Linked DNA regions of Homo sapiens. The protein of the gene in region 1 interacts with the protein of each later gene in a pairwise test. Each region holds a gene or a part of one and is shown in the gene's direction. Other genes may lie near its edges.

Region 1 (3,806 bases):
GCATCTGGGCCAGACTTTGACACTGAGGCCATGGAATGGGTGGGGCTCTGAGAACAGACCAAAGTGATCATGGGCTGAAGGCTATGTCCACAGATCCAAGGCGGGATAGGCTGTGCTGGGCAGTGATGTCAGCCAGGCTCCCCAGCGGGACTGGGGGTGTCAGGGGCAGCTCTGTCCCAGGTGGCAGACACTGGTTTCCCCTCCTGCTCTCACAACCGGCCTGTTACCAGGTGTTGTCTGAGCTGTGGTGAGGCTTCCCTGGTGACATTCAGGAGCAGGGAGCCTGTGAGTAAGGGTGTATGCATCTGCCCTGACTGCCTGGCCCTGTGGTCAAGGATGGGGGAAGGCAGCTCTGCCTGCAGCTCCACCCCATTTATAAAGCACTGTGGTGCCTTCTGCTGGGGCATGTGCTGAGTGGTGCCTCGCAGGCACTGCCCTCGGGAAGTTCACAGGCTTATGTGGAAGCTGGTGGGAATGGGCCAAGAAGAGAGGTGTCAGGAGCCAGGTATTGGGCAGGTCCCAGGTCTCTGAGCCTCAGTTTCTTCATCTGTAGGAGGGTGGTGACCCTGCCCTGCTCAGCTTACCAGGTACAGATGTAAGTTTTCAGTGCAGAGGAAAAGCAGAGAACTTCCCCTCAGATGGCCATACCCCCTTGTCGCTGTACCCAACTCTCCGGTCCTACTTTGTAGCTCTCAGGTGTCACATGTGGATCCTGCCCTACCATCCCCCTTCCCTGTCTAGAAACGAGGCCTGCTGAGCTTGGAGCCATCCCACTCCCTGCTCTCAAGCCGTCTGCTCCTGGGTTAGCCTGTGGCTGGCCTGGCCTGATTCTACATAGATGTGGGTGTTTCTCCACTGCTGGGGCAGCAGTTGTCCATTCTGGGGCCTGGGTCAGCTCTCAGCTGTGGCCGTTGTGCCTGTGCTTCCCCAGGTCCTGGTGGTGACTCCAACCCTGCCCTCACATATCCCAAGAGCAGGCTGACTGCCTTCCCCATTCCCACCTTTCCAGTAACTGCTGCAAGAACGGACAGACACTGCTGCAGAGAACTTGCCACGGTGTTTCATGCTGTGGCTGGTGGTTCCAGGCTGCACGCTCCATTCTAGGAAAGGGTGAGGCTTCCTGATCATCAGTCTTAACAGGGGACTGTCCTATGGGTACCTGTATACGCTGCCGGGAGTGGGGCAGAGTGGGGTTAGAGTAGTGCCTGCTGCCCATTGGTTTGTGCGGTCCTTTAAGGCTGTAAGTCTGTGTGCGTGTCTGGTTTTTTCCTCCTCCTATCAGTAATCAGTCTTGTATAACCAGGCTGGCCCTGCTTCCTGCCTAGGGGCTATCGGTGTACCATCTGGAGTTGCAAATGGGGTGATAGGGCGTCAGCGGCCTTCCCACACCCAAGCACTTCCTGACACCCAGCCCCTCATCTCTAGCCAACCTCTGGCTCCCCTAGGGATCCTGGGGCTCAGGCCTCACGCTCCAGCATCCGGGGGCTTTGCCCTTCTGGTGTTGCTCTTCTTTGCAGGTGCCTTGGAACAGGGGTGCAACAGAGTTCAGAAAGTGCCATCTGTTGCATGGATACCCTGCTGCCACCCTCGTCCACCTTTCTGGGGCAGAACAGTTGGATGGGTCTTTATTTAAGAGGACAAAAGGGAGAGAGAATGCATAGAGGCTGGGTCTGGTGCTCACGCCTGTAATCCCAACACTTTGGGAGGCCAAGGCAGGTGGATCCCTTGAGGTCAGGAGGTCAAGACTAGCCTGGCCAACATGGTGAAACCCCGTCTCTACTAAAAATACAAAAAAAAAAAAATTAGCTGGGCATGGCGGGAGATGCCTGTAATCCCAGCTACTCGGGAGGCTGAGGCAGGATAATCACTTGAACCCAGGAGGCGGAGGTTGCAGTGAGCCAAGATCACACCACTGCACTCTAGCCTGGGTGACAGAGGGAGACTGTCTCAAAAAAAAAAATTTGCTTAGAATTTGTCTGTGTGACCCTGGGCAAGTCATTTCCCCTCCTTGGGACTCAGTTCCTTGCCTGTGAACGGGGACAGTGCTTCTCCCTTACAGAGCTGTTGTGAGAATTAAAGTAGAAAATGTACCTATGGTGGTTGTTGGTAGTGACCAGTTCCCCCAACCCTGACTCCCCTGCAGGATGGGGCCTGGGCCCGGGAATGGGGGATGGGCTGGCAGAGGATGACTGTCCCAGAGAGGAGTCTTCTCGGCAGATGTGGAGACCTAGCTGAGTCAGAGGCCAGGATCTAAGTTTGAGGGTGTTCCTTACACCCTGCAGCCATGAGTCTTTGGCTGAGTCAAATGGCCTTTCTGAGCTCAGTTCCTTATCAGTAAAGCCTGGACAGTGGTCCAGGACGCTGGACACTGTGTGAGTGTTAGGACACAGGACACTGTGTGAGTGCAGGTGGGGACCCATGGAGCACTCTGCTGGGGAGCAATTCATGGGGAGCACCCCTCCAGAGAGGGATGATTTGCACAGGGCCCTCAGCCCAGTCCCTTGCAGGCTGGACCTTGGAGAGTGAGGCCCTGAGGCGAGACATGGGCACCTGGCTCCTGGCCTGCATCTGCATCTGCACCTGTGTCTGCTTGGGAGTCTCTGTCACAGGGGAAGGACAAGGTGAGGGCTGGGCACTAATGTCTGTATGAGGTGGGTGGAGAACTAGGGCATGTTTGGGGGACTGGGTTGTCCGATGTCAAGCCTCTAGGGAAAGGTTTGGCCCAAACTGTGCTGGGGCATGTCCTCTAGGGGTCAGCCTGGACCTCAGTCTCTAGTCTCCCTACTTTTACCTCCCTACCTTCATTCCCTGGACCGACTGTAGTCTCCCTTCCTTCACTCTCTTGACGCCTCTCCAGATCTGACTTGCCCGTGTACCACAGGTCAGAGCCCATCACTTCCCAGGCCTCCCAGTGCTTCCCTGGACAGATTCTGGGATCATTTACTGGTGACTGCCCTGCTAGGGTGTCAGCTGTCAGATCCTCCCCAACCCCCGAGCTCAGCTCTGGCCTGAAGTACTTACCGTGGGCTCCTGATGGTCACTGTCTCCAGGGCCAAGGTCTAGAACCTTCACCTGCCTCACCAACAACATTCTCAGGATCGATTGCCACTGGTCTGCCCCAGAGCTGGGACAGGGCTCCAGCCCCTGGCTCCTCTTCACCAGGTGAGCATGGAGGGCCATGCCCACCTGGACAGGGATGAGGGTGAGTTCCCCAGGATTGAAGCAGCTATGCCAGGACAGTGTAGCAGCCCCGTGGTGCTGACAAATGCCCTTTCCAGCAACCAGGCTCCTGGCGGCACACATAAGTGCATCTTGCGGGGCAGTGAGTGCACCGTCGTGCTGCCACCTGAGGCAGTGCTCGTGCCATCTGACAATTTCACCATCACTTTCCACCACTGCATGTCTGGGAGGGAGCAGGTCAGCCTGGTGGACCCGGAGTACCTGCCCCGGAGACACGGTGAGCAGCAGCTATAGGTCTGGGGCGGGGCCGCTTGGCAAGAACATCCTGGCTGCTTGGGGGTTTGGAGCAGGGCCTTGCAGCCTGTGAGTGGCCCAGTGAGTGTTCTCAGTCCCAGCCGAGTGAGATCCAGGGCTGGGGGCAGGCTTGGCCCTTGGGAGGGGAGGGCCCATATGGTTACTGCAGGGGCAGGGTTTTGGCAGGAAATAAACATGCACGGCTGCTAGTTGGGGCAGGGGCTGGCACTTGAGTCATGTGAAATGCACTTCAGTCATACCAGGAAGGACTCCAATAAGATGCTGGGAAAAGCTTCCAGCAGCAGACTGTGAAGGAAAGGGAAAGCAAGATT
Region 2 (4,575 bases), on another chromosome or scaffold:
CTGTGAGATTTTGCCTAAGACAATTGACCATTCTGATTCCACAGTCTTTATACATGCAAATGCTAAAACAGTTGTAACAGTGGAGATACATTGTGAAAAATGTGTCATTGTGCAAACAAAATAGGATGTACTTATGCAAACCTAGATGGTATAGCCTACTACATACTTAGGCCATATAGCATAGCCTATTGCTCTGACCACCATCATATATGCAGTCTGTCATTGACCCAAATATTGTTATGCAATGCATGACTGTAATAATAATAATACTTGCCACATAGGTAAAAATACTGTCATTAACGGTGTAGTAAAATGGTAACTGGCATAGTAATGCTGTAAATTGAATACAATTTTTAGAAGGTTTTGAGGAGGGAGGTTCAGAACTGTTCTCCATTGATTTGCTTAACAAAGATATTTTCATTTTCCACCAAAGGGTTTGGCTGTGAAAACCTTTGCAGAAATAATATTTTAGGAGTTTTTTCCCCCTGTACTGTCAACTGATTTTTAGTAAGCATATGACTTTCTGTATGTATCATCCAATTGATTTAAAAATGAATCAATGAATGTATTTATTGATCGCCTGCCTCGCTTCACAAAGGAATGTGAGGAAGGACACCCAATTTGGCATTGCTGTGTTTCTCTGTATTTGGGTCATGCATTTTTTCTTGCTTTCCACATTGAAAATGTGGTGGATGCAGTAGATTGGCTTTAAGTGTCAGGCCTTCCCTCATTTACTATACCTTTTTGTGTTTCACAAGCTGGAAAGCTACCAACTACATGCTCTAGACATCCTTGCTGCTAATATTCTGCATGTCAGATTGGTCTCACCAATGGCACGCAGCAAAGCAAGATTTGCAGGTGCTGTTTTCTTGCTGCTGGCAAATGCAGCCGTGGAGACCACCGTTTTTTGCAGCACTGTTCCAGTGTCCTGTTAATTGTTCTGTCGGTGTTGAGAGGAGGTTGGGGACCAGGCATGGCAACTTCCTGACGCCATCTTCCTGATTGTGGGCAGCAGCCACAATCAGCAATCTTATCTAGGTAGTCATCCATGGATGTTCAGCTCAGCCCTTCTCCAGCCTTTCCAATGATTTCGAATGTCCCCAATTCCCCCTAACGAATCCCTTTCTGACTAGGAGTAACTAGCTGAGTGCTGCAATGAAATCCTGACTGACAGATTTGTAAACTCTTTGCGGGCAGGAACCCTTGATATAAATAAATGACCTTGCATTTTAATGGAGGGAAGCAGAAGGATAAACAAATGAATAAGTGAAAAGTTTTAATAAGATGGTGATGCGTAAAAAATAAAGCTGGTTAATGGGGAGTGCAGGAAATGAGCGCAGCTGTCTTGCCGTTTTAATCAGATAGGTCAGAGAAGGCTTCTCTACTAGGGTGGCTTTTGACCTGCCTCTCTGTTAGGTCAATTGTGTGCGAGGCCCTGATGGAGTTACTGTGTTAAAATGCAATGATTCAATTACTCCATTACTTAGATACCCTTTAAGTGACACTACGGTTGTCCATCTCCCCGCTATTGAATTGTTTACCCACAGTAAGCATGGCGGGAAGAGCTTCGATCCGACCCTTGAACGCTCAATAAAAATGGCGACAGCACTTCCTGTACTTGCCCTCAACAAAGATGGTGTCAACACTTCCTGTTTAGGGTTTTCGCCATTAACAAAGATGGTGCTTATGGGGCAGGTTCCCTAACAGTCAGGATTCCGGTTGCAGTTTTTCTCCCCCGCCCCAAAGATACGTGGTTGCAGACGTAAGTAACAGGAATCCATCTTTCTTTGAAAGTCCTGCATTGTAGCGTCTGCGACCTGGGCCCTGCGGGGGCTTCCCCGCCCCGCTAACTTGCTCCGCATTTCCGATCCGGGCCAAGGCTGGGTGGCTGCGGCAGTGCCGGAGGCCCGCTCTCCCCTTGGTCCGCTCTTTAGTTCATTCCCAGCACTCCCTCTTTAGCGGGTCAAGTTGCCGCAGAAACCGCCCGTAGTCTTCCTGTTTGATACAAGGGTTTCAGCGGCCGAAGCAGAGCCTTTTTAAATAGTTCCCAATGGGCGCTCACGGCCAAACGTGAACACCTCCCCTCCTCACCTGTCACCTCCTGAACTTTACAGGGTTGCGAGGGGGAGTGTGGGATCGGGTGTCGCCTAGCCGTGGTCGTACTGCCCGGGTGTGTCTGAAGCCCCATCTGTCATCCCTGCCTGCCTTCCCGGTCACTTAACCTTCACTGCCTTACACACAACCAAGCCACAGCACACTGGTGCAGGGGTGGTGGAACTGCACCTTCAAATCGTGCCTGGCTACTGACCAGTGCTGGGGTGTGTGCTTTTTTTGAAAGAAAAAAATCCCATAAAATGTCCCATGCATGTGCGGCCACGACAGTGTTGTGCTGGAGATTCGGAATTCTTAGTGGGAAGGAATGGAGTCTGTGACTGTATATTGTGTAAAGTTTATTGTAGACTGGGCACAAACAACAATTTTCTTAAAGGTGATCGTGTAGAGGACTTTTAGCGAAAAGAGCCTTAAATTCTGAACCTGCTGATTTCTGTCCTGCACTCCTATTACTGATCAGGTTTTGCAAATACTTGTGATCAAAAAAAGGGGACCTGCGTCCACCTTGGCAGTTTCTGCCTTGGTGGTGGTGGTGCAGGTCTGATGAGGGCAATGTGAAAATAAAACCACCATTTCTTCTCCAGCGTGTTAAAATTAGTGCTGCTCTGTAATCTTCAGATAAAAATTGCTTGTTCAGAAGGGTCTCTGACCCACTTTTTTTTTTTCTTTTTCCAAATTTCTTTATTGAACGAGGAATTGAGCTGGGACCCCATTGTGTGAAAAGCAGAAACAGAAAAGATGATTCATCTTCATTGTTGTTCATTATGTTAGGAAACATTCAAAATTAACCTGGCTTGGCTTAATCAGTGAATTAAATACCATGACCTGGCAGTCTGCTATGGTTTAAAGATGTGCTTGACCTGAAGGAACTTACATTGCAGTGACACTGTCTTTAGGGCCACATCAACATGTCTGTAATTTGAGCTGTGATTTTGGCTCTTTCCAGGGAGAAATGGAGGCCAGAGACAAACAAGTACTCCGCTCACTTCGCCTGGAGCTGGGTGCAGAGGTATTGGTGGAGGGACTGGTTCTTCAGTACCTCTACCAGGAAGGAATCTTGACGGAAAACCATATTCAAGAAATCAATGCTCAAACCACAGGCCTCCGGAAAACAATGCTCCTGCTGGATATCCTACCTTCCAGGGGCCCTAAAGCATTTGATACATTCCTAGATTCCCTACAGGAGTTTCCCTGGGTCAGGGAGAAGCTGAAGAAGGCAAGGGAAGAGGCCATGACCGACCTGCCTGCAGGTAGGCCTCAGAAAGATCACTTTGAACCAGCTCCAAAATGTTGTAACTATGCTCTTTGCTTTTTTGTTTATTTGTTTGTTTGTTTTTGAGACAGAGTCTTGCTCTGTTGCCCAGGCTGGAGTGCAATGGTGTGATCTCGGCTCACTGCAACCTCTGCTTCCTGGGTTCAAGCAATTCACTTGCTTCAGCCTCCCGAGTTGCTGGGAATACAGGCATTTGCCACCATGCCCTGCTAAGTTTTGTATTTTTAGTAGAGATGGGGTTTCATCATGTTGGCCAGGCTGGTCTCGAACTCCGTACCTCAGGTGATCCACCCACCTCCGCCTCCCAAAGTGCTGGGATTACAGACGTGAGCCACCACACCTAGCCAGAACTATGCCCTTTGGATTTGAAGTTGGGATGTAAGGCAGGACAAGGGTCAATGGTTGATGAAAGTGGGTAAGGATTTGGGACTGAAGGGACATGACGTTGGAGGAATAGGATCAGGAGGTGGCATTAGGAAGTGCAGGGAAGGAAGAATGAACCGTGACTGGGAGGTGAGGGAGGGAGCTCAGAGAATGCATTTAGAAATGCTTCCAGGAAACCTGGCATGTCACTTGGGAAGCATGTTCTCATCAGAGAGCCAGGTCATATCTCAGCCGTTGGCATCAGGAGCCATTTGGAAAGTGCAGATGGGAAAGCAGGCATTCGGCCTACTGACAACTGATTTGTGAGGTGCCAGAGCTACCAGCTGGAAAAGGTCAGATTCATGGAGGAGGAGACAGCCTCTAGGAAGGCATGCCCTGCACCTGTCCCCTGGGCTGTCCTGTGTGGCCAAAGGGGATTATTTTGAAGGCTGACTTAGTTTGTTTTTAAAGGTTATTCGTTTAAAGTGTCCTTTTTAGTTTAGCTTTGTTCAGACACTGGAGTATTTAATTTTGCAAAGAGCAATAGTTTGGGGAGGGTCTCAGTTTAATTTGAAGGAGAATTGGAAGCTGGAGAAGAGAGAAACAGTTCTGGTTCTGTTAGCCTGGCTTGTAGCAGGAAGAAGATGTGATATGGAAACACTTGCTTTTTCTTAACCTCCCTTGACTCTGTTTCACAAAGATAGAGGGGCAGAGAACTGAACTGGCAAAAATTAAAAATTGAAAAAAAAAAGTAATTGAAAGTTGGCTTGCAAATTTTTAACAAAGTTAGAGAATCAAGGTTCTCTGGGGTTTCTGATAAGAGTGAT

What was found.
Region 2: the proteins of IL9R (region 1) and CRADD interact in a two-hybrid assay, tested with the Homo sapiens proteins (one large-scale study listed by BioGRID and IntAct).

What each region holds. Positions count from the first base shown.
Region 1 is NC_000023.11:156,000,399-156,004,204, forward strand, and holds part of IL9R (interleukin-9 receptor isoform 1 precursor), read left to right. Parts: intron 1-931; exon of another isoform or gene 932-1,009; coding exon of another isoform or gene 1,010-1,110; exon of another isoform or gene 1,111-2,470; coding exon of another isoform or gene 2,471-2,507; coding exon 2,508-2,621; intron 2,622-3,050; coding exon 3,051-3,162; intron 3,163-3,278; coding exon 3,279-3,457; intron 3,458-3,806.
Region 2 is NC_000012.12:93,675,711-93,680,285, forward strand, and holds the start of CRADD (death domain-containing protein CRADD), read left to right. Parts: upstream 1-1,664; 5' UTR 1,665-1,762; intron 1,763-1,860; exon of another isoform or gene 1,861-2,318; intron 2,319-3,058; 5' UTR 3,059-3,064; coding exon 3,065-3,362; intron 3,363-4,575. UniProt on the Homo sapiens protein: Adapter protein that associates with PIDD1 and the caspase CASP2 to form the PIDDosome, a complex that activates CASP2 and triggers apoptosis.